Regions from separate parts of the Homo sapiens genome. Here regions 1 and 3 are each linked to region 2. Evidence: fine-mapped expression QTL. A gene starts in region 2. Each other region holds a variant in brackets. All regions are shown on one strand. Distances are between the middles of the regions.

Evidence for each region.
Region 1: its variant is fine-mapped to the expression of MRFAP1L2 in whole blood (TOPMed, PIP above 0.99).
Region 3: its variant is fine-mapped to the expression of MRFAP1L2 in atrial appendage (GTEx, PIP 0.95).

The regions. Positions count from the first base shown.
Region 1 is chr4:6,691,173-6,699,172 of GRCh38, forward strand. S100P (S100 calcium binding protein P) reads left to right here and starts at 2,706. Exons shown (of 2, transcript NM_005980.3): 1 at 2,706-2,898; 2 at 5,721-5,998. The coding sequence starts at 2,761. The coding sequence ends at 5,870. RefSeq lists enhancers at 1,390-1,927, 2,237-2,973, 2,974-3,709, 4,912-5,674. The variant T/C (reference allele first, on the strand shown) is at 3,625.
Region 2 is chr4:6,670,565-6,678,564 of GRCh38, forward strand. It overlaps MRFAP1L2 (Morf4 family associated protein 1 like 2), which reads left to right and starts at 3,511. Exons shown (of 1, transcript NM_138699.3): 1 at 3,511-5,483. The coding sequence starts at 3,649. The coding sequence ends at 4,008. LINC02482 (long intergenic non-protein coding RNA 2482) reads right to left here and starts at 3,317. Exons shown (of 2, transcript NR_134665.1): 1 at 3,120-3,317; 2 at 164-429. RefSeq lists an enhancer at 2,505-3,113 and a silencer at 3,586-3,815.
Region 3 is chr4:6,643,956-6,652,260 of GRCh38, forward strand. No RefSeq gene overlaps it. Among named protein-coding and RNA genes, the nearest start is that of MRFAP1, 7.4 kb to the left of the region's middle. The variant A/C (reference allele first, on the strand shown) is at 3,432.

The DNA of each region.
Region 1 (8,000 bases), 21 kb after region 2:
GCTTGTCCTCAGAGTTACCCAGGTGAGCTACTCCAGCAGGGGCAGCCCTGGTGGTTTGGTGACACTCCAGTGGCCTGAACGGGTGGGGGAGTGCAGCAGTTTCCACCCGATGGATGTCCTGATCCTTCCTCCCACAGCGGTGAAAGATTAAAGTGAATAGTCGGGCATGGTGGAGCGCCCCTGTAGTCCCAGCTACTGGAGAGGCTGAGGTGAGAGGATCACTTAAGCCCAGGAGTTGGAGGCTATAGTGAGCTGTGATTGAGCCACTGCACTCCACCCTGGGTGAGAAAGCAAGACACTGTCTCTAAAAGTAAATAAATGGGGCCAGGCACGGTGGCTCATGCCTGTAATTCCAGCACTTTGGGAGGCCGAGGTGGGCAGATCACTTGAGGTTAGGAGTTCAAGACCAGCCTGGCCAACATGGTAAAACCCCATCTTTACTAAAAATACAAAAATTAGCTAGACAAGGTGGTGCATGCCTATAATCCCAGCTACTCAGGAGGCTGAAGCAGGAGAATCACTTGAACCAGGAGGCAGGGGTTGCAGTGAGCCAAGATCGTGCCACTGCACTCCAGCCTGGGTGATAGAGCGAGACTCCGTCTCAAAAAATAAATAAAAATAAATAAATAAATAAAAATTTTAAAACAAAGTGATGACCGGACTGGCCAACATGGTGAAACCCCCAAAAAATTAGCCTGGTGTGGTGGTACATGCCTGTAGTCCCAGCTACTCGGGAGGCTGAGGCTGGAGAATCACTTGAAACCGGGAAGTGGAAGTTGCAGTGAGCCGAGATCACACCACTGCACTCCAGCCTGGGCAACAGAGTGAGACTCCATCGCAAACAAACAAACAAACAAACAAAAAATATATGTGTGTGTATATCTATATATATATGTGTGTGTATATACATATGTGTGTGTGTATATATGTGTGTGTGTATATATGTGTGTATACATATATGTGTATATATGTGTATATATATGTGTGTGTGTGTGTGTGTATATATATATCTATATAACGCAGTGAATGCCCTTCCTGAGGAGCACTGCCTCTGGGGTAGGGAGCCTCCTTCTCTCTCCCACTTCTCTGGCTGGGGTGGTATGATGGTGGCCTGTGCTGTGCGACCTTATCCCAAGAGGGAACTGCCCAGCTCAGGAGTGAGCAGAATGGACCTGTCCCTGCTCCCCAAGGGGTCACCAGTGGGGCCAGTCTGAGCCTCCACTGCAGGACACCTGGGCAGAGGCAGTGTGTTCTGAGAAAGCCGGCTCTTGTGAGACCTGCTGCTGCCATCGTGCACCAAGGTTTTTCTATGTTGAGCCACAGCCCCGTGGGGAGAGTCTCGGCCCATGTGCTGGTGGAGGCTGTGTTGGGAGAGGTTAGGGAACTTGCTGGAGGCTGACACTCTGGAAGATCTCTGCTGAGAGAGAGGCCTTTGAGTGTGGGCCTACTTTGACCGGGGCAGGATGTGAACACAGGCCCCTACCTCCATGCTCTCCAGGACTCGCTCAGCCTCCCAAGCACAGACCCTCTGAGTACCTCCGCTATAGAGACGGGGAGGGGTGTGACTGTCCCTGACTCTGCCCAGAGTCCCAGGAGCCTTTGTGCCGTCTAAGCCCTGTGGGTGATTTGGGTTTGGTAAGTGCCGGGGCTCAAAAAACAACACCCCAACGTGGAAGCCTCAGAAACAAAAGTTTCTCTGTCCTGCTCCCACCCTCCTGTCTCCAGCTCCTCCTCCTCTGAGAGGCTTCCCCAAACCCTGCCATAAAACCCAGAAATATGACTCCAGTTCTCCACTCCCTCCCCTTTCTGTGTAGAAACCAGCCTAAAGAAACCCTCTGGCCTGCTTTATTTGACTGTAGGTCATAAGAGCTCCATTCCAGAAAGAGTCCTGCCCCACACCTAGAAGGAAGGAGAGCTGCTCAGAGAGGCCCCAGGGAATCTGACTCAACAGGCCCTACCAGGCTCTCCTCTTGGTCTGTGAGCATCCAGCCTTACTTTTGTATCCAATCATATTTCCATACTTCGCTGAACTGTGTTTATGGATAGTTTCCACCAGATCTTTGGATCTTCATCTTGAAGGCTGCCGTGCCACATAAGCTATGATCAAATACATCTGTTATGCTCTTCTCCTATTCATCTGCCTTCTGCCCGTTGATTTTCAGCAAACTCCCAGAGGATGAAGGGGAGTTTTCTGTTTGGCCCCACAGGGGAGGAGCGAGCGAGATTGACGTGGAAGCTGGGCCTCTGAAGGACACAGAGTGCTCTAAGAAAGGGACGATGGGGCAGATCCATGTTCACAAACACGCCCATGTGAATTCACTCTCAGATGTCTCCTCGTGTCAGCACGCTGGGTGCCAGCACGCTCTGATATTGACACAAAGGGCCACGGAGTCACCACTCACTCCACACACACTCACCCCGTGCCCACTTACCCAGGGAGGGCCAGGAATGAGGATGCCACTGTGGCTCAGTGATGGCGCCGAGACACAGGTGAACACTGTAAAATGTGGATGCCTGGAGGCAGCCCACACCCTGGGCCTTGGCTGGGGGAAAGGTTCCAGAAACGTCATCACAACGATGCATTTCATCAGAACTGAGCACATGAATGGGGAGGGGCAGGACTTCCTGAATGTCCCAACCCCACTGTCCCACCCTCTGTGTCAATATGAGGCTGCCTTATAAAGCACCAAGAGGCTGCCAGTGGGACATTTTCTCGGCCCTGCCAGCCCCCAGGAGGAAGGTGGGTCTGAATCTAGCACCATGACGGAACTAGAGACAGCCATGGGCATGATCATAGACGTCTTTTCCCGATATTCGGGCAGCGAGGGCAGCACGCAGACCCTGACCAAGGGGGAGCTCAAGGTGCTGATGGAGAAGGAGCTACCAGGCTTCCTGCAGGTGAGCCAGGCCGGCAGTGCTGGACTCAGCGGGGGCTGGGGAAGAAGGGGAAGGCGTGGCAGGCAGAGGGCTGAGAGCTGCGGTGGGGTCGGCGGTCAAGGGGCTCAGAGGCAAGAGGGACAGATCCTGAAATGCCCTGGAAGCCCAGCCAAGGAACGGACCCACCCTGGCATAAAGGCAGGGGAGGCGGGAGCATCTGAGCAGGGAGAGGGTGTGGTCAGCTTGATCCTTGAAACATGGGGTTGACCCCAGTGTATTTGTGACAGGCCTGGTGGGAGAGTGGGACTCAAACCTGTGCAGTGGGGGCAGGGGCGGAATGCAATCCAGGGCTGCCATTTGCAAGTTTGCCAAGCTTGCCAAGCCCTTGAGCCCTCGGGGCTGTCCTCCAAGGCTGCCGGCCATAAACGCCCCAGCTCTGCCTCCCACTTGCCCGCTTTCCCTGCTCCCATTCCCAGGCCCCTTGTTGCCTGGTATTAGTGGGTCTGGCAGGAAGGACGGGAGGAGGCTCCATCCTGGCACCTGTCTGCGCAGAGCTGTGGACCTCCCTTGGGCTCCCTGCCAGGGAGGAGCCACCGGCCTGAGCCTCACAGAAGGCCCCTCAGGGCGGCCAGGACCAGCTTCCTTCCGCCCGGGGCAGCCTCCGGCTGGGCTGAACAGAAGCCGTACCCTCTCCATTTCCCCTTCCCTTTGACCCCTGTCCTCTCCTTCTTTCTCACTCCCCCACTT[T/C]CTTCCTTCCTTCCCCTCCCCTTCGGGCCCCACCAGACTCTGCCTACCTGCTAAGGGGCTAACCCACATAGATGCTGATAATCAAAAATGAAAGCCTGAAATTTTCAGCCCTAGAATCACTTCAAAGACATGAAACACTTCAGAATATTGCTTCTATTTTCTTTTCTTTTCTTTTTTTTTTTTTTTGAGACAAGATGTCACTCTGTCACCCAGGCTGGAGTGCAGTGGCAGGATCACGGCTCACTGCAGCCTCGACCTCCCTGGGCTCAGGTGATCCTCCCACCTCAGCCTACCGAGTAGCTGGGACTACAGGTGCATGTCACCATACCCGGTTAATTTTTGTATTTTTTTTAGAGACAAGGTCTCACCATGTTGCCCAGGCTGGTCTCAAACTCCTGTGCTCAGGCAATGCGTCAGCCTCGACATCTCAAAGTGCTGTGATTACAGGCGTGAGCCCCGACACCTGGCCTAGTTCTATTTTCTAAATGTGAATTCTGTAAAGATATCTTTTAAAAATAAAGTTCTGTTTTTGGTAGAAAATGTAAAAATAGATAAATATGGAGGGAAGAAATCCCCCCTGGAATACAGACGCTTCCTCTCCCTTCCAGCCTTTTCCCCATATGAACATTGCTGTGAGTGAGATTTACATGCAATGTAATTTCTTTTTGAGCTTAACATTACAACATAAATTCTCAAACTCTGATGTTCATTAAACACCCCAGCCCCATCCTGGGAACTTGGGCTTGGGGCTCGGGGTGTTCTGATAATGATCAAAGTATGAGAATTGAACCCATGAGGACTTTGATCCAAGATACTGGGGTGTGGGGAGGGGCAGGCACAGGTGTCCTGGGAACACACTTTGAGAAGCAATGGCAAAGCTGGGGGTCCAGCTAATGTGTTACATTAGAATCACCTCGGGGAGGCCCTGGGTGCCCTTCTCAGCCCTCCCTCCGGAGGCTGCTGAAGCCCAGCAAAGCCGGAGTCAGAGAACAATGTCCGCCTGAGGGCAGGGCTGGGCTGGGCTGGCCTTCTGGCCCTATCTGCTCCGTGCCCAACCCAGCGCCCCGCACAGTCGGAGCTTTGTAAATACGAGGTGACTGTCTGCCTACAAACTTTGTAAACATCACTTGAAATGGCCGCAGGGTATTGTGACATGGCCATACCACTATTTGTTTGCTATTGAATTTGTACTTCCCTGCCTTACTTTTGCTATTGCAAACCATGCTGTCACTAAGGTCTTCATGCACACAGTTGTGTCTTGGTCAGATGATATGTTTCTACCAATTTTAATTGTGTTTCTTTCCACCTGGACACACAGCTCTCTGGCCCAGGGCTGGGTCATCAGCACACCCTGCTGCTGCTGTTCAGATCTGCATCCTGGTCCCGCTTGGTCCCACAGTGAGAACGCTTTGCTATCACATGGGCAGGCTCTGAGAGCCCTGCCGGCCTGGCCTTCTCAAAGAAGACCTGAGAGCTTGGGACCCAAGCAGAGAGGAAGAACAGGGCTCAGGGTGCTTGCTCCATGCTCGCTCCACACCTGGGGCTCAACCCTGGCTTTCCCCGGCTCCCTGTGTGACTTCAGGGCAGGTCCCTTGGGCCCTCTGGGCCTTATCATCTTCATCTGTAACAGGGCGATGCCTCTGCCGTGTCTGGTGGTGTTGAGGAGTTCCTGTTTGTGTAAGCAGCTAGTTCAGTGCCAGCACGAGATGGGAGGCCCATGAAGTTAGCAGTGCACAAAAAATAGAGCAAAGACTGGATGCATTTCCTGAGAACAACCATCACTGTAAAGCACTTTACAAATCCAAAGACAACCCCCGGCAAAAACTCAAAATGAAACTCCCTCTCGCAGAGCACAATTCCAATTCGCTCTAAAAACATTACAAGTTAGTTCATGTCATGCCAGATAGCTGAAGGCAGCTCACAAGTTCTTAAGGCCAGGAATGCCATGTGTCTGCTATGCACAGCTGGCCCTGGCCCTGACAGCAAAGGTGACGCAGATGTGGGTGCCCTGCTCCTGCCCAGCAGCAGTGCTTGGTGGAGGCTGAGGCCCTGCACAGGCACCCTCACTGCTGACCTTGAGCCTCTCTCTCCTCTAGAGTGGAAAAGACAAGGATGCCGTGGATAAATTGCTCAAGGACCTGGACGCCAATGGAGATGCCCAGGTGGACTTCAGTGAGTTCATAGTGTTCGTGGCTGCAATCACGTCTGCCTGTCACAAGTACTTTGAGAAGGCAGGACTCAAATGATGCCCTGGAGATGTCACAGATTCCTGGCAGAGCCATGGTCCCAGGCTTCCCAAAAGTGTTTGTTGGCAATTATTCCCCTAGGCTGAGCCTGCTCATGTACCTCTGATTAATAAATGCTTATGAAATGATCCTGGTCTCAGAGAAACTGGTTATTTCCTTAAAACCTCAGTGTCCTCTCCCCACAAAACAGAATTCACTAATTAAACTTGTCATTTCATTACTCATTGCCTGCCTGCAGTGGTGAGACAGATGAAGAAGACAAGGCAGTCGATAAAAATCCATTTGTTGGCCATCTTCTGAGTGCCCACTGAGACACAGTCCCACCTTTGGCCGTGTGAATGCCACCATGTCCTGGACCCAAGGGAGGCTCGGGTACACACATCCATGTATTTATTCATCTACTTCGTAATTCATTTAGTCGGTCACGTAGCCACTCATTGAACCTGGGCCCCTCCATCTCTCCAAACAGCATGTTTTCTTCAAGTAACATACTTCTAATATTTATTTATTTTTGAGACGGAGTCTCGCTCTTGTCACCCAGGCTGGAATGCAATGGCGCCATCTCAGCTCACTGCAACCTCCGCCTCTTGGGTTCAAGTGATTCTCCTGCCTCAGCCTCCCGAGTACCTGGGACTGCAGGCACCCGCAAAACCACACCTGGCTACTTTTTGTATTTTTAGTAGAGACGGGGTGTCACCATGTTGGCCAGGCTGGTCTCGAACTCCTGATTTCAGGTGATCTGCCCACCTCAACCTCCCAAAGTGCTGGGATTACAGGTGTGAGCCACTGCGCCTCGCAAAGTAACATATCTTTTTTTCTTTTTTTTTTTTTTTGAGACGGAGTCTCACTGTGTTGCCCAGGCTGGAGTGCAATGGTGCGATCTTGGCTCACTGCCAGCTCCGCCTCCCAGGTTCACGCCATTCTCCTGCCTCAACCTCCTGAGTAGCTGGGACTACAGGTGCCCACCACCACGCCCGGCTAATTTTTTGTATTTTTAGTAGAGACAGGGTTTCACCGTGTTAGCCAGGATGGTCTCGATCTCCTGAGCTCGTGATCCACCCACCTCGGCCTCCCAAAGTGCTGGGATTACAGGCTTCAGCCACCACGCCCAGACAGTAACATACTTTTAATGATGCAATGCTATTTTTGCCACAAAGACTATGAAACACCATAACAGAGAAACAATGAATTCCAAGAGAGCATTAGAATCATCAGTGAACAACTGCTCACATCACCTGTATTTAGTTTTACGACACTAATGTTGGGAGCACCCAAAAGGACTCAAGCGAGGTCTTGGATGATAGGTAGGTAACTGGATCTGGTTTTAGGACCCCTATCATTTTTTGGATACCCAGTATTTAAAGCCTCTTGCTATGTTTGAAGACATTTTCACTAGAGAAGATCTATCACCAAAAGATCCTGAACTTGGAGGTGGACACAACAATACGAGGCTTGGGTGGATCCCTCTTTGGGGAAGGGACTGCAGATTGCAAATATTTTTGCTAGAGAGAGAGTCGTGTTAGGTTAGATGGGAGCAGATACACACATTTAAATAAAGTAAAAACTAATAATGAGGGAGAAGTAAAGTTAATAATGGGGGAAACAAAAGGGGTGGACTGCCAGAATGGAAATCTTTGTTTCTTTTTTCCTTTGAGAGACGGCCTTGCCCTGTCACCCAGTCTGGAATGCAGTGGTGCTATCGTGGCTCACTGCAATCTTTTTTTTTTTTTTGAGACGGAGTCTTGCTCTGTCGGCCAGGCTGGAGTGCAGTGGTGTGATCTCAGCTCACTGCAAGCTCCACCTCCCGGGTTCACGCCATTCTCCTGCCTCAGCCTCCCGAGTAGCTGGGACTACAGGTGCCTGCTACCAAGCCTGGCTAATTTTTTGTAATTTTTAGTAGAGACAGGGTTTCACCATTTTAGCCAGGATGGTCTCGAGGCTCACTGCAATCTTAAACTCCTGGGCTGAAGCAATCTTCCTGCCTCAGCCTCCCAAGTAGCTGGGACCACAAGAACGCACCATCGCGGCTGGCTAATTTTTTGTAGAGACGGGGTTTTGCTATATTGCCCAGGTTGGTCTTGAACTCCTGGGCTCAAATGATCCTCCCAACTCAGCCTCCCAAAGTGTAGA
Region 2 (8,000 bases):
CATCACACTTCTGAAAAGGGCATTTTAAAATGCGCCAGTTTGGGCTACTGAGCCTGCTTTCTGCCGGTGGAAAGATTGGGAGTCTAGAAGTCCTTTGACACTTTGAACTGTCGCTTGGATAAGCTAGAGCATTTTTGCTAATATGTTCACCTCGAAACTTTTGTGGGTTTCCATGTATTTTATTCCATTCCACTCATACCAAGAGACAATTCTTTTTGAGGTGTGTTTAGCTCTCTAGACTTAATTACTGCTGTGTTTGTCACATTGGCTGCAGTGAGATCGTGACATTAGGATTCCTGGGAGCCTGCGCTGGGCAGAATTTAAGATGGCTCCTCCATGATCTTCACTCTCTGGGTGAAAACTGTCGGTCAGCCCATGCCCAGGATTGTTGATCAGTGCTGAAGGTCCTGAGGCTGTTTTTAGCATAGTCTAAAACTTAAGCAAAGCAATAATTATAATTGAGCAAGCAAAATTGTTCTTTAACATGGAATCGATGCTGTTACACAACCACATAAGCACTATTTTAGTCCGTTCACGCTGCTCTAACAAAATACCAGAAACTGGGTGTCTTCTAAACAACAGAAATGTATTTTCTGAGTTCTGAAGGCTGAGCAGTACAAGATCACGGTGCCAGCAGGTTTGGTGCCTGGTGAGGGCCCACTTCTGGTTCATAGAAGCCCATCTTTTTGCTATAACCTCCCACAGCAGAAGGGGTAAGGCGGCCCTGTGGAGTTGTTTTATGAGGGTGCTAATCTCATTCATGAAAGCTGAGCCTTCATGACCACATCACCTCCCAAAGACCCCACCTCCTAATATCATCACATTGGGGATTGCTTTGCAACATATGAATTTTGGGGGGACTCACATATTTGGACCATGGCAAGCCCCTTAAAAGCAGAGTTTTCTCCAGCTGGGAGCAGAAGGGGATGACAGAGAGGCTGGAAGGATAAGAAGGATCCGACATGCTCTTACTGGCTTTGAAGATGGAGAGGGCCACGTTTAAGGACCGGAGAGTGACCTGTAGGAGCTGAGAGTGACCTCTGGCCATCAAGCATGGAGGGTCCCCTTAACTTTCTGCTAGAGGTACACAGTGAATAAGCCTAGACACAATGACATGCAGTGGGTGCTTAATAAAGATCTCTTGGGAAATGAGCATTAAAGCAACATTTACTGGGCTCCTGCTGTATGCCAAGCCCATTTCAAGCTGAGGAAACAGATGACTAAACTGACTAAGTACCTGCCCCTAGGGCCTGTTTTCTCGCAGAGGCACTTATATAGTCCAGTGAAGAAAGAAATCTTCCAGAATGATTCCTAAAGGCATATTCAGAGCCTGGCAGGGCTGAGGAAACAGTGGTGAATCAGACCCACCTTGGCCTTGGGTGCCCACAGTGGGTAAAGCCAGACTCCAACTTACAGCCAAAGCCCCAGGCAGAGTGAAGCTTATACCCTTAGGAAAAAAGTAGGGGGAGGCTGGGTCACAGCACTCAGCATCAGCACCGAGGCCGCAGCTCTGTGTTCCAGGAGCATCTGCCCGAGGCAAGAGGGAGCGGAGGCCCTGGCTGGGGGCAAATCCCGACGCTGTGAGCACCTGGCTTCTCGGAGCCTGGAATATTCTAACGGGACCACTGAATTCGGTTGTTTATTATTTTTATTTATTTATTTTGAGACAGGGTCTCGCCCTGTCACTGGGCTGGGGTGCAGTGGCGCAATCAGGCGTTCAGAGCTCACCTCGGTCTCGACCTGCTGGGCTCAAGCAATCTTCCCGGCTCAGCCTCTCAAGTAGCTGGGACTATCGGCACGCGCCACCACGCCCAGCTAATTTCTTGTGTTTTTTTTGGTAGGGTTTTTTCCCTTGTTGCCCAGGCTGGTATGGAACTCCTGAGCTCAAGCGATCCTCTCACCTCAGCCTCCCAAAGTGCTGGGATTATAGGCGTGAGCCACACGCCCGGCCTGGGTGTTTATGATTTAGAATGTTGGTGAGAGGTGACAGTGTGCTGGCAGTCCTCACAGCCCTCGCTCACTCTCGGTGCCTCCTCTGCCTGGGCTCCCACTTTGGCAGCACTTGAGGAGCCCTTCAGCCCACTGCTGCACTGTGGAGGCCCCTTTCTGGGCTGGCCAAGGCCAGAGCCGGCTCTCTCAGCTTGCAGGGAGGTGTGGAGGGAGAGGCGCGAGCGGGCACCGGGGCTGCACACGGCGCTTGCGGGCCAGCTGGAGTTCAGGGTGGGCGTGGGCTTGGTGGGCCCCGCACTCGGAGCAGCCGGCTGGCCCTGCCAGCCCCCGGCAATGAGGGGCTTAGCACCCGGGCCAGCGGCTGCGGAGGGTGTACTGGGTCCCTCAGCAGTGCCAGCCCACCGGCGCTGTGCTCGATTTCTCACCGGGCCTTAGCTGCCTTTCCGAGGGGCAGGGCTCGGGACCTGCAGCCCGCCATGCCTGAGCCTCCCACCCCCTCCATGGGCTCCTGTGCTGCCCGAGCCTCCTCGACGAGCACCACCCCCTGCTCCACGGCGCCCAGTCCCATCACCACCCAAGGGCTGAGGAGTGTGGGCGCACGGTGCCGTTCTCGCAGGCAGCTCCACCTGCAGCCCTGGTGTGGGATCCACTTGGTGAAGCCAGCTGGGCTCCTGAGTCTGGTGGGGATGTGGAGAACCTTTATGTCTAGCTCAGGGATTGTAAATACACCAATCAGCACCGTGTGTCTAGCTCAGGGTTTGTGAATATACCAATCGACTCTGCTGGGGCCTTGGAGAACCTTTGTGTCTAGCTCAGGGATTGTAAACGCACCAATCAGCACCCTGTCAAAACAGACCACTCGGCTCTACCAATCAGCAGGATGTGGGTGGGGCCAGATAAGACAATAAAAGCAGGCTGCCGGAGCCAGCAGTGGCAACCGGCTCAGGTCCCCTTCTATTGTGGAAGCTTTGTTCTTTCTCTCTTTGCAATAAATCCTGCTGCTGCTCACTCTTTGGGTCCACACTGCCTTTATGAGCCGTAACAGGTCTGCAGTTTCACTCCTGAGCCGGCGAGACCACGAACCCACCAGAAGGAAAAAACTCCGAACACATCCGAACATCAGAAGGAACAAACTCCAGACGCGCCACTTTAAGAGCTGTAACACTCACCGCGAGGGTCCGTGGCTTCATTCTTGAAGTCAGTGAGACCAAGAACCCACCAATTCCGGACACATTGGGAACTTAGAGCAGTGCTTGGGACATGGTTATCAGCGTCAGATATTTCCTTAAACTAGCGTGAAGTCGACTTTAACCTTCCAGCAGTGTGAGTGAGGGCCCTGACCCTAGAATCAACGCCCAAAGAGCTGTGGCGCTACAGCGGGCGGGGACATGGGGTGCGCATGCGTGCGGGGGGGTACGCGTGCGTGCAAGTGCGCGTGCGCGCGCAGGACCGCTGAGGCGGGAGCCCCGAATGCGGTTCTCGCTTGCTGCGTGGCGGTAAAGGACCGCAGGTGTCGTAAAAGGGCCGCAGTGGCAGCGTCCTGGCCGACGGCTAGTAGCCCATTTTGGATACCGTCCTCGCTGCGGAAAGTTGGGGCAACCTGTTGCTAGTCTGGTCGTTGGTGACAGCGAGGCTTCCGCGCTCGCTGCTGGTGAGCAGCCCCGGCGTGCCCCGCGGGCTGGAAGAGGCGGCGGCGTGATGCGGCCCGTGGACGCGGACGAGGCGCGGGAGCCCCGCGAGGAGCCGGGCAGCCCGCTGAGCCCCGCGCCCCGCGCCGGCCGCGAGAACCTGGCCTCCCTGGAGCGCGAGCGCGCCCGGGCGCACTGGCGGGCCCGCAGGAAGCTGCTGGAGATCCAGAGCCTGCTCGACGCCATCAAGAGTGAGGTGGAGGCAGAGGAGCGGGGCGCCCGGGCCCCAGCACCCCGCCCGCGTGCGGAGGCTGAGGAGCGGGTGGCTCGGCTGTGCGCCGAAGCAGAGAGGAAGGCTGCGGAGGCGGCGCGGATGGGCAGGCGGATCGTGGAGCTGCACCAGCGGATCGCCGGCTGCGAGTGCTGCTGAGCCGGCGAGGCCGCGCGGGTCTGGAGCGGAGCGCGGCGGGGAGTGTCCCGCGTGGAAGGCGCTGGGTAGGCAGGGAGGGGAGCGCAGAGCCGTGCCACGCTCTCCGCGGAGTTGGTTTCATTCTTTTTTCATAGGTAATTAGAGAAAATAATTTGATATGTTGTTGTAAAGAGTCATGACCACTGGAAGTATTTTCAGGACGTAGACCTGGTGGGTCACTACGTGGGGGGAGAGAGGTGTGAAGCGGAGGTACATGCTGGAAACGTGTGAATGTTGTTACGAGATTGGAGCGTTTGCGATGACCTTCCTGCAGGTGGAAGCATTGTGCACAGGTGGTTGGGTTTGTTTGACTCCCGGATATGAGAATATCAAGCTCAAAATTTATGTTGTGATGATGAATTTCTCCCACTTGTACTTTAGGTGGCCAACTGACGAACTGTGTTCACCTGATAAGGAGTCGTGGCTGCTTGGACAGGCTCAAACCAAGAGAGCCTTTCGTTTTGTCTCCCCTGTTTTTCTGCCTGCGTTTTCTCCACATTAGCCACTCAATTTCCAGTACCATCCTGGCGGATGACTTCAGCATTAGATGGTCAGGTGTATTTTTTTATTAATAGGCGCATTCAGTTTGGAAAAGACAGCTTTTCATTAATGTCCCACGTAAAGGAATATGGCCTATACAGTACGTACGCTGCTGCGTGGTCATATTTGTTCCTGTGATCTTATTGTATTTTCAAAGTTTGGAAGTATACTCGTGTGCTTTGCTGTTTTTTTATGCTTCCTGGAATTTGGGGACTCATGAGAGACTTGAGGTTAGAGTTCTGCAAGTGAGAAGACACTACATGGTTGCAGCTGCCACATGAAGAACCCAAGCTCCTGTCAAAGTTGTGAATGCGACTTTGGATGAGATTAAGAAGGCCCAGTGGACGGTTGGTCTTGAAGAGTGGCAGTGTGTGGATTTGAGGACCTCTGCAGACCATCAGATCAAAGGAGGGAGAGCTGTTTTGGGTGTTTTGTTTTTTTTGTTTTTATAGCATTTTGCTTTTTCTTGGAATGTAATTTTCCTATGGCATGTTAACTGGTGCACATCGTGTAACCTGTCTGGTGAGCAACCTACAATTGGGATGAGTTCTAGGTACATGTGTTTGCTGACTTTGGGGTAAACAACTTTGTTATAATACAGTCTCTGCCACAGATGCATGTGACCTCTTCAGGGGCCCAGAGTGGCTGAGGAAGGAAAGCTTCAAGCTGGCCATGGGGGTCCCAAACAGTCATTCCAGGCTTAGATGATGACTAGCCTAGGTCATCAGAGCCCAGACTCCACAGAGACTAAAATCAGAGCTCTGTCTTGTTATGATAAATTTCATTTGCTTGGAAAAAGAAATGCTGAAAGCCAGTGTTTAGAATCTTTGTGCAGATGACCAAAGCAATTGACTTGGCCAAGAAAAGGTAAGGTAAATAAACATTTTTCAAAATGAGTTTCTCCTTGATAGTGGTCACTGTCAAATGGAGGAGAATTGCTTCTGACTCACGAGTTGTTCAAAGCCTGTAGCCCAGGGTGGGGTTTGAGCTGCAGAAGAAGAAGAAGGCAGACCTAGAGTAGGAAAGGGGTGCCTCATGAAGCCATATGGTCTGGCCCCAGCCTTTGGAGAGGTGAAGTCCATTCAGGCAGCTAGTGTTCACTGTGACCACAGAGCTCCACACTATGCCAGGCACTAGGAATTTCTTGGAGAGACGATCTAGTGGGTTGAGACAGGTCTGAAAACACAATTACAGTACAGTGTCCGCAATGCTGGTCTTTGATTCAACGCATAAATTGAGCACCTACAGATGCTGAGACTACCTGAGTGAACAAAGTGCTTGTAAAATTGGATCTGAGGGCCAGGCATGGTAGCTCATGCCTGTAATCCCATTTCTTTAGGAGGCCTGAGCAGGAGGATTGCTTGAGGCCAGGAGTTTGAGATCAGCCTGGGCAACATGGTGAGACCCTGTCTCTAATAGAAAAAAAAAGTTGGATTTGTTATTCATAAGATGCTTAGAATTGTGTCTGGCTATAGTAAGTGTTTCCTAAGTATTTGTTAGATAACCCCTAAATGAGGGAAGCAGGAAAAAAATGATATGTACCCATATTAAATAGTGTAAGTTCTGTGGGGGAAAAAAATGGCATTGGGGGATAGGGTGTGGGATTTCTAGTTGATTTGCATGGTCAGGTAACATGTCTGATATGACATTTGAGTGAAGGCTGATGTGTGGAATGTGCATGGGTGTCTGGGGAAAGAGTCTTCTAGGCACGGGGAACAAGTAGGGTAAAAAGGTGAGGCAGCATGAAACCCCAGTGGGAAGGGAGGAAGTGGTGGGCACCGAGGTCAGAGGGAGAAGTGGGTGGATGTGAAGCTGGTGGGGGGTTGCCAGCAGAGGAGCGATGGGAGCTGACCATCTGAGGTGGTGGCTGCTGTGCTCAGGCCTGACAGTGGGGGACCAGGACAAGAGTGGGAGGCAGCGTGGAGAGTGGAGCACGCGCTGTGTGGATGGGGACGGGTGTGGACTGCGTTGGGAAAGTGCCGAGGGCCTGCCTGTGGACATGAGAGGATTCAGCAATGGCTCTGAGGCTCGGGACCTGAGCACCTATTTAGTACCATTTGTCAAACAAACTGGGCCACTTTTGAAAGTGAAGGGTGGCTCTATTAATAGAAATTCATCTGGGACTGCAGATGTAAACAAGGACTTTCACAGGCAAAGAGGTGCTTACGCTGTGTCTGGTGGGAGGACTTAGGGAGGAGTCCCCTCAGACCCACTGACTTGCTCTGAGCGGAAGCATGGGCACAGCTACACAAACAGCACCTCAAGCATGGGGAACACGAAACAGGCCAGGGGCCCAGCGTGGGCTGCAGAGGCCGCCCGTGGATGGAAATGGGGCGGGGGGAATGGGGGATCCTTCGGGAGACCTGTCTTTGAGTCTTGTGTCTCGGGTAAGGCAAGCGCGCTTACAGTTAAATACATTTCCTTTTTTAAAAAAATTTTCCCTGGGATTGTTAAATTTGCTTTAGCAAACTTGTAAAGAGGAACATCATTATATAGGATGTCAGTGGGATGGCAGGAGTAGGTAGAAGTCTAAAACCACACAAAGGGGCCAAAAGGGAAACATTTTGCACTGGCCTGTCTCGTCTGTTACCTCCCAGCCCAATTCCCTAAGCTCCCGCCAGTGTTAGGACACTGAGGATGTGAAAATGAGAAAACAAAAGCCTGTATTACAAGAATCCACTTGGGATTAGGCACTTAACATATCTAATTTTCACAAATATCAGAGGTCATTTTATTATCCCCATTGTTCAGGTGGGGAAACTTCAGCCAAAAACAAAACAGAAAACAACCCTAGAACCTTGCCGGGAAGAATTCAACTGATGCCAAAGCTCTTTCACAACATCAGTAGCTCCTGATGTGCCATCTGCATCCTCTAACTGTCGTGATGGGGTTTTTTTTGTTTGTTTTGTTTTGTTTTTTTTGAGACGGAGTCTCGCTCTGTCGCCCAGGCCGGACTGCGGACTGCAGTGGCGCAATCTCGGCTCACTGCAAGCTCCGCTTCCCGGGTTCACGCCATTCTCCTGCCTCAGCCTCCCGAGTAGCTGGGACTACAGGCGCCCGCCACCGCGCCCGGCTAATTTTTTGTATTTTTAGTAGAGACGGGGTTTCACCTTGTTAGCCAGGATGGTCTCGATCTCCTGACCTCATGATCCACCTGCCTCGGCCTCCCAAAGTGCTGGGATTACAGGCGTGAGCCACTGCGCCCGGCCCGTGATGGTTTTTGAAACAATGGTTCAGAATGCTGACCACTCTGGAGAGGGCTGCAGCAGCAAGCCTGGGACTGAGTTTCTGGCCTCATAGAATGTTCCATGAGAGACCCTCTCTGACTGACGAGAGGTGTAAGTTGTCTCTCAGGCTAAGTGAGATTTGGAGGGCTGAATGCAGGCATCCCCGCTCTGCTCATGTCCCATGTT
Region 3 (8,305 bases), 26 kb before region 2:
CCCAGCTTCCCAGTTCCCCTCTCAGGAAACTAGAAGTTTCTTATACATCCTTACAAATACTAATGTGTTTGAACGGCTTCCACTTTTTTTTGTTTTTGGTGAGACAGGGTCTCTGTGTCTCACAGGCTGGAATGCAGTGTTGTGACCACTCACTGCAGCCTTGACTTCCTGGTGTCAGGTGATCCTCCCACCTCAGCCTCCCTGGTAGCTGGGACCAGGCATACACCACCATTTCTGGCTAATTTTTGTATTTTTTTTTTTTTTTTTTTGTGGAGGTGGGGTTTCGCTATTTGTCCAGGCTGGTCTTGAACTCTTGGGCTCAAGTGATCACCTTAGCCTCCTGAGTAACTGGAACACCACCGCGGTTAATTTTTGTATTTTTTGTAGACAGTTGTTTGCCATCTTGGCCATTTTGGTCTCAAATTCCTGAGCTCAAGCCATCCACCCACCTTGGCCTCCCAAAGTGCTAGCAATACAGGCATGAGCCACTGCGCCCAGGCCACCTGTTTGTTTTGTTTTGTTTTTTACATTAATGGTAGCACACTGTATAATCTGTTCGTGTCCTTCATTTGTTTACTTGGAAGTCTTTTCCTATCTAACATCTAAATCTGCATTCTTTTTTTTTTTAAGGCTGCATAGTGTTCATTCTTATGCCAGAGTTTGAAAACTATTGTCCTAAAATCTTTCCAGTAACTCCTTAGTTCCTCTTTTTTATGATTCTGGTCACAACTGCAATGCAGCCACTAATTCCCAATTGCCCCAGCTCCTGAATTTCATACTCCTGGCTTGCTAGCAATTGGAGGAGCAATCCAATCTTGCATTTTCTAAGCAAAGAATGTGGTAAGAAGCATTCTGAGAGACAGTCTTACGTGGCTGTACAGTCATTAAATTTTCTGGCTGGAGTTGCCATATTTATTTATTTGTTTATTTATTTATTGAGACAGGGTCTAACTCTGTTGCCCAGGCTGGAGTGTAGTGGCATGATCTTGGCTCACTGCAACTTCTGCCTCCCAGGGCTCAAGCAATTCTCCTGCCTCAGCCTCCCGCGTAGCTGGGGTTACATGTGGGTGCCACCATGCCCTGCTAATTTTGGCATTTTTAGTAGAGACAGGGTTTCACTATGTTGGCCAGGCTGGTCTTGAATTCCTGGCCTCAAGTGATCCACCTGCCTTGGCCTCCCAAAGTCCTGGTATTACAGGATGGCAGAGCTGGAAATAACCTCAGAGAGCAATGAAGCTTTTCTGGGTTAAAATGTAGAAGTCATTAGTGCTGTTCACCAAATAAATTCCAATTCTCTGCCTTCTAGGCACAGAGTAAGATGGCACTTTCTGGCCCCCTTGGGGTTGGGTGGGCCCACGTGATTAATTCTGGCCGATGAGCTACAAAGGAAACTTACATCTGTTGCATCCAACCCAGAACCTCCAAAGCAACACCCTGCAGAGCTGTCTCTTCCCTCTGGCACAGGAACCAGCAACATTCCAGATGGTGGCTGAGCTTAATGACCACAGTTCCCTACCAATCTATGATGAGTATATACCACAAACAAGGAAAAACCTTAGTTGTTTTAAGCCACTGAGATTTGGGGATTGTTTGTTACAATAACAACTTAGACTAAGATGACTGATACAGATATTCATTATTTCTTCCATTCCTTGTGTTTTGATGAAAGGGTTGTTCTCCCTTCTACCTGAGGCCCGTTGATCACATCCCTCCCACTAGCCCAGGCATTGTCCAACAGGTTATCTTCTGTCTCTGGCTTTCACGTGGAGCTCTTGACTTTCCTCTGCCTTCTAATGACTTCAAGGTGAAAGAAAGCGCTAGTTCAAACTCCTACTCCTGGCCATTCTCCCCCTTCCAGGCAGCAGGTAAACATGGAGTGGCTTGAGTTTCTACCATCTTCCAGAGATAAATGGGGATTTATTACCCTGGTTAACACTGTGGCCAGGTAAATCTACAAAATCCATCCAGTGCCTGCTTCAGTCACTGCCTGATATGGTTTGGCTGTGTCCCCACCCAAATCTCATCTTGTCCTGGGAGTGACCCGGTGGGAGGTCACTGAATCATGGGGTGGTTACCCCCATACTGTTCTTGTGATAGTGAGTTTCCACGAGATCTGATGGTTTTACAAGGGGCTTTTTCCCCTTTGCTCTGCACTTCTCCTTCCTGCCGCCATACGAAGAAGGACAGGTTTGCTTCCCCTTCTGCCATGATTGTAAGTTTCCTGAGGCCTCCCCAGCCATGTGGAACTGGGAGTCAATTAAACCTCTTTCCTTTATAAATTATCAGTCTCGGGTATTTCTTCATAGCAGCATGAGAACAGACTAATACACAGCCCAGCATATGTTAGACCCTCTCTGAGTCAATTCTCTTTTCCCCGTCTCTGATTTCCATAATGTTCTGTGGTACCTATTTACTGGTTTATATCCCCATTGCTTCCTCCTTCAAACTCTATACCATGGTTCACAAAATCCTGCATTCCATTATTCCCAAATTAATCCATATTATTCTTTGCCTCTTCAAAGAACATTTCTTTACCAACTCTTAACAGCTGAAACTAGATTTTCCCCAAGCCCTGGGCTTCCCTGTAGCCTTGTTGGTGATGGTTCCTTACAGCACTTGCCCACTGCCTGGGGCAGATACTGCGTTCATCAGGACTGCATTTTTGCCAGAGAGGAGTGAAAAAAGAAAAAAAGAGCTTAGGGTTTTGACAAGGACATCACTGCAACAATACATGATGTACTCTGAGTGGGGAAGTATGGAGGTGAAGAGCAGGAGAGCAATAGGCGAAAGTAGCTGGTAAAGTGAATGGAGATCCCAGCATGTTAGTGACTACAGTGAAAGTGTCACCTGGAGGATGGGATGTGGCCAGAAAATAGGAGGGCTGATATTGGAAAGCAATTTATCATATTAAAAACTCTGATTGTCAAATAAAATGTATCTGTGGATGACATCCTGCGAGCTACGTGCTTCTGGGGCCTCAGATCAATTCTTGTTTTAACACCTGTGAAGCATTTACTATGTGCCAGTTACCTACAATTCCTCAAAAGCCTTTCACGACCCCTCAGTGGGGCAGATGCCATTATTAAAATTAGTCTCGTCTTATCAATGAGGCACAGAGATATTAAGTAGGCCAGGTCTGAGACAATAACAAGCCCCAAGTCACTCTTGGGAGTGAATGGCCAAGCAGGGTGGAGGAGCTCCTTGGATATGAGGGCCCAGGTGTGGGGCTGGTGGCTGTGTGAGCATGGAATTCGCTCAGGACGATGGCAGGGCTTGGGGTGGAGGGGAAGGCCAGGAGCCAGGTGCCCAAGTTTGCAGTGAATGACGGGACTCCAATGGGGTGAAAAGAGATTGGAGGATGACAGAGGTGAGAAGAGGGAGAGGACAGTCAGATGACCAGGGAGTGCTCCCAAGGAGCACCATTTTGGACA[A/C]GAGGGAGGAGAAGTAGAGTGTGGACATGGCCTGGGAGAACACTGCCCCCAAATTCTGATTGACACACGAGGGACATATAGAAATGAGTGGCTTTTCCCTCACAGGCCTGAGGATGAAATAGCACTATTCTCAGGGGTAAGGTCGGGGGAGGGCAGAGCTCCTCCAAGAAGTCAGGCACATGCTGGAGGCCCAGGAACAGGTTTGGGGGTGAAGAGGAGTGGAGAACATCACTGGAAACTTGTCCTAGGCTGAGTTCTCCTTGGTTCATCAATGGGAGAAACAGCAGTGACAGGCTAGTAAGTTTAGTCCTGAATTTAGTCTCTTTGAGGGAGGACAGGCATGGCCTTGGTGTGATCGCTATGGAGGCAAAGATGTGGCAGTTGGAGACTGTCACTCAACTGTGCTTCCTGCAGTAGCTTCTATGAATGAGCTTGGAGAGGCACCACTGCTGGTCATTTGGGGCCTCACAGGAAAGGGGTTCTGCATCCCAAACCCAAAGAGTTACGGGAGATGGCTCCAAAAGAAGCCATCTTACAGGGAAATGAGACTGAGGCCCCAAACCTTTCTCAAGCATCTTCAGTAAAGGTCCTTCCTCAGAAAGTGAGTGCCAGTCACGTGGGCAAACACCAGCTGATGACTGTCACCTTCCTGTCAAGGACACTGGCTCCACAGGGACACCACTGGGAAAGCAGGGGAAGGACAGAGCGCAGTGAGGAAAATGCCGGCATCTTCACAAGATTTGGGCTGTGGCTGCCTGCACATTGGGGCTGGCTGACAGCAAACAGGCAGGAAGCATCTGAGCGGGTCTTGTTTGTGGTGTTTTTTTTGTTTGTTTTTTTTTTTTGAGATGGAGTCTCGCATTGTCGCCCAGGCTGGAGTGCAGTGGCATGATCTCGGCTCACTGCAAGCTCTGCCTCCCGGGTTCACACCGTTCTCCTGCCTCAGCCTCCCGAGTAGCTGGGACTACAGGCAGCCGCCACCACGCCCGGCTAATTTTTTGTAATTTTAGTAGAGAAGGGGTTTCACCATGTTAGCCAAGATGGTCTTGATCTCCTGACCTCGTGATCCGCCTGCCTCGGCCTCCCAAAGTGCTGGGATTACAGGCATGAACCACCGCGCCCGGCCCCCTTGTTTGTGTTTTTATTTCTTGTTTTCCTTTTGTTTTTTTGAGACATGGGGTCTTGCTTTGCCCAAGCTGGAGTGCAGTGGTCTGATCACAGCTCACTGCAGCCTTAACCACCCAGGCTCAAGCGATCCTCCTGCCTCAGCCTCTCCAGTAGCTGGGACCACAGGCATGTACCACCTCACCTGGCTAATTTTTTTATTTTTATTTTTTAGAGAGATACGGTTTCCCTACGTTGCCCAGGCTGGTCTCAGACTCCTGGGCTCAAGCAATCCTCCTGCCTCAGTCTCCCAAAGTCATCCGAAGGTTTTGAAGGAAATATATGGCCAAAGAAATTCCAAGGTGAGTCTGCTAAAACTTGGGGTTGTTCAGCCCCTGAAGGAAGTGCTGAGCCCCAGCACCTGCACCAGCATGAAGAAGGCTTCAGAAACTGCAAAGCCCCTGGAGGGGGCAACCTCTGAGGCACATTTCATACAAGGCCTGAGAAGATAATAGATAATAAAGTCTCCCTGAGGCAAAAGCCAGGGACCTAGAGGGAAGGAGGCAAAATAGTTTCTGCTAGAGAGCAAGACCTTTGATGATCCCCAAAGGCCATAGGCACCATGTATTTCCCATTCCTCCCTTTTCCTCCCTATTCTGTGTGTTAGAAGCAAGCCAGCCCATACTCCAGGAGAGAAGAATTATGCTCCACCTACTGAAGAGATGAGTAGCAAGAAGATTGTGGACATATTTTTTTAATCTTTTCAAATTCCTTTTTATCATGTGGACGTATTTTTAAAACCACCACCACTATTGTCGTTATGAGGTAGGGGGCGGGACTCGACTCTGGAGGCAGGGTTTAGACTCCAGACCAGACTGAGACTAGCTGAAACAAGGAAGAGTTGGAAGCCTCTCCATGAGACACGCCCACCAGTGCCATCAGTTTACCATTGCCATGGCAACCCCCAGAAGTTACAGCCGCTTTCCATGGCGATGACCCAATGACACAGAAGTTACCACCTCTTTTCTAGAACTTTCTGCATAATCTACCCCTTAATTTTTTTAGTGTATTACTTTATTTATTTTTTCTTTTTATTGAGACAGAGTCTTGCACTGTCGCCCAGGCTAGCGTGCAGTGACGCGATCTCGGCTCACTGCAACCTCCGCCAACCAGGTTCGAGCGATTCTCCTGCCTCAGCCTCCCAAGTAACTAGGATTATAGGTGCCTGCCACCATGTCCAGCTAATTTTTTTGTATTTTTAGTAGAAACGGGGTTTCACTATGTTGGCCAGTCTGGTCTCGAACTCTGACCTCATGATCTGCCCACCTCAGCCTCCCAAAGCGCTGGGATTTCAGGAGTGAGCCACCACACCCAGACTTTTTTTTTATTTTTTGAGACAGAGTCTCCCTCTGTCACCCAAGCTGGAGTGCAGTGGCACGATCTCAGTTCACTGCAACCTCCACTTCCTGGGTTCAAGCAATTCTCCTGCCTCAGCCTCCCTAGTAGCTGGGATTATAGGCATGAGCCACCTCACACCCAGCTAATTTTTGTATTTCAGTAGAGACAGGGTTTCACCATGTTGGCCAGGATGGTCTCAAACTCCTGATCTCAAGCAATCCACCCACCTCAGCCTCCCAAAATGCTGGGATTACAAGCATGAGCCACCGCACCTGGCATCTACCCCTTAATTTGCATGTAATTAAAAGTGGGCATAAATATGACTGCAGAACTGCCCTGAGCAGCTCCTCTGGGCTCACTGCCTATGAGCACACCACCTGTGCTGCTACTGTGCACTGCTGCATCAATAACTCTTGCTGTCTACCACCACTGGCTCACCCTTGAATTCCTTCCTGGAGGAAGCCAAGAACCCTCCCAGGCTAAGCCCCAATTTGTCCTGCATCAGTTATATTCCCATGATATGATGTCTCTGAGACATCATAGATTCAAAAGAATCTAAACTGCCAACATTAATAATAGTTTCTAGAGTTTCAAGGTTTCTAGACACAAAAATCAATAAAAATCAGTAGTGTTTCTCTTTACCGGGAACGAAGAGGAAATATATTTTCTGAAAGGTACCACTGATAATAGAACCCAAAAACTTTTTTTTAATGGTGTGTTTCCTTGGGATACCATAACAAACTGCCACAAATTAAGTGGCTTAAAACAGAAATTTGTTTTTTCATAGTTCTGGAGTCTAAAATTAAGGTGTTGGCAGGGCCATGGGCTCTCTGAACCATCTGGGCAAGAATCTTTCCTTGCTTCTCCCTGGCTTCTGGTAATTGTCAGCAATTCTTGGCATTCCTTGGCTTGTGGCTGCGTCAGTCCAGTCTGCCTCCATTATCCCATGGCCTTCTTCCCTTTGTCTTCATGGAAGGACACCAGTCATTGCATTTAGAGCCCGCTCTCATCCAGTCTAACCTCATCTTAACTAGGTCTGCAAAGAACCTATTTTCAATAAAGTCACATTCTAAGGTTCTGGGCAGAAAAATTTTGCAGGGACATTATTCAACCCAGTACAAATGGTTGGAAAATATATATTCGTATATATTAAATTTTTAATATGTGAAAAACCATTATGCATAAAATTATGTTGAAATACATTAAATAATGACAAAATAGATTAAGAAAATTAGTATCATAATTATTCTCCAAACTGCTCCCACAAATCAAGGCAGTCCCAATAAAAATCTCTTCAGATGGGTCTGTTTTGATTGTTTGGGTTGAATTTACAAAAAAAATTAATTTGAGGGCTGAGTACAGTGGCTCATGCCTGTAATCCCAGCATGTTGGGAGGCCAAGGCAGGAAGATCACTTGAGGCCAAAAATTCAAACCCAGCCTAGGCTACATAGTAAGACCCCATCTCTACCAAAAAAAAAAAAAAAATTAGCTGTGTGTGGTGGTGCATGCCTGTAGTCCCAACTACTCAGGAGGCTGAGGCAGGAGGATTGCTTGAGCCTGGGAGTTCCAGGCTGGAGTGAGCTATGATTGCACTACTGCACTCCAGCCTGGGCAACAGAGCAAGGCCCTGTCTCTAAAACTAAAATAAAAATAAAAACCATGAATTTGGCTGGGCATAATGGCTCACACTTGTAATCCCAGCACTTTGGGAGGTGGAGGCAGGCATATCACTTGAGCCCAGGAGTTCAAGATCAGCCTGGGCAACATGGCAAAACCTAGTCTCTACAAAAAATTTAAAAATTAGCTGCATGTGGTGGCAAATACCTGTAATTCCAGCTACTCTGGAGGCTGAGGCAGGAGATCTCTTGAGTCTGGTGGGTGTGGGGAGGAGCACAGGGAACTCACAAATTTGAAATTTAGATGGACAAGCAGAAAGCCAGGATATTCCTGCAGTAGCACCAGATGGGAGGCCTTGCTATACTTTACCAAATATTAATATTTATTATAAAGCTAACAGTAATTAAGTCAATGGAGTAATGGCCCAGAGATAGGTAAAGACCAGTGGAACAGAGTATACAGCCCAGATACAGATATGAGCAAATATGGACATACGATACCTGACACACGTTACACAGCAACCCAGAAAGAATGGATAAAACAGTCAGCATGGGCCCACCGCGGTAGCTCACGCCTGTAATCCCAGCACTTTGGGAGGCCGAGGCGGGCGGATCACGAGGTCAGCAGATCAAGACCATCCTGGCCAACGTGGTGAAACTCCGTCTCTACTAAGATACAAAAAATTAGCTGGGCATGGTGGCACATGCCTGTAGTCCCAGCTACTTGGGAGGCTGAGGCAGGGGAATCGCTTGAA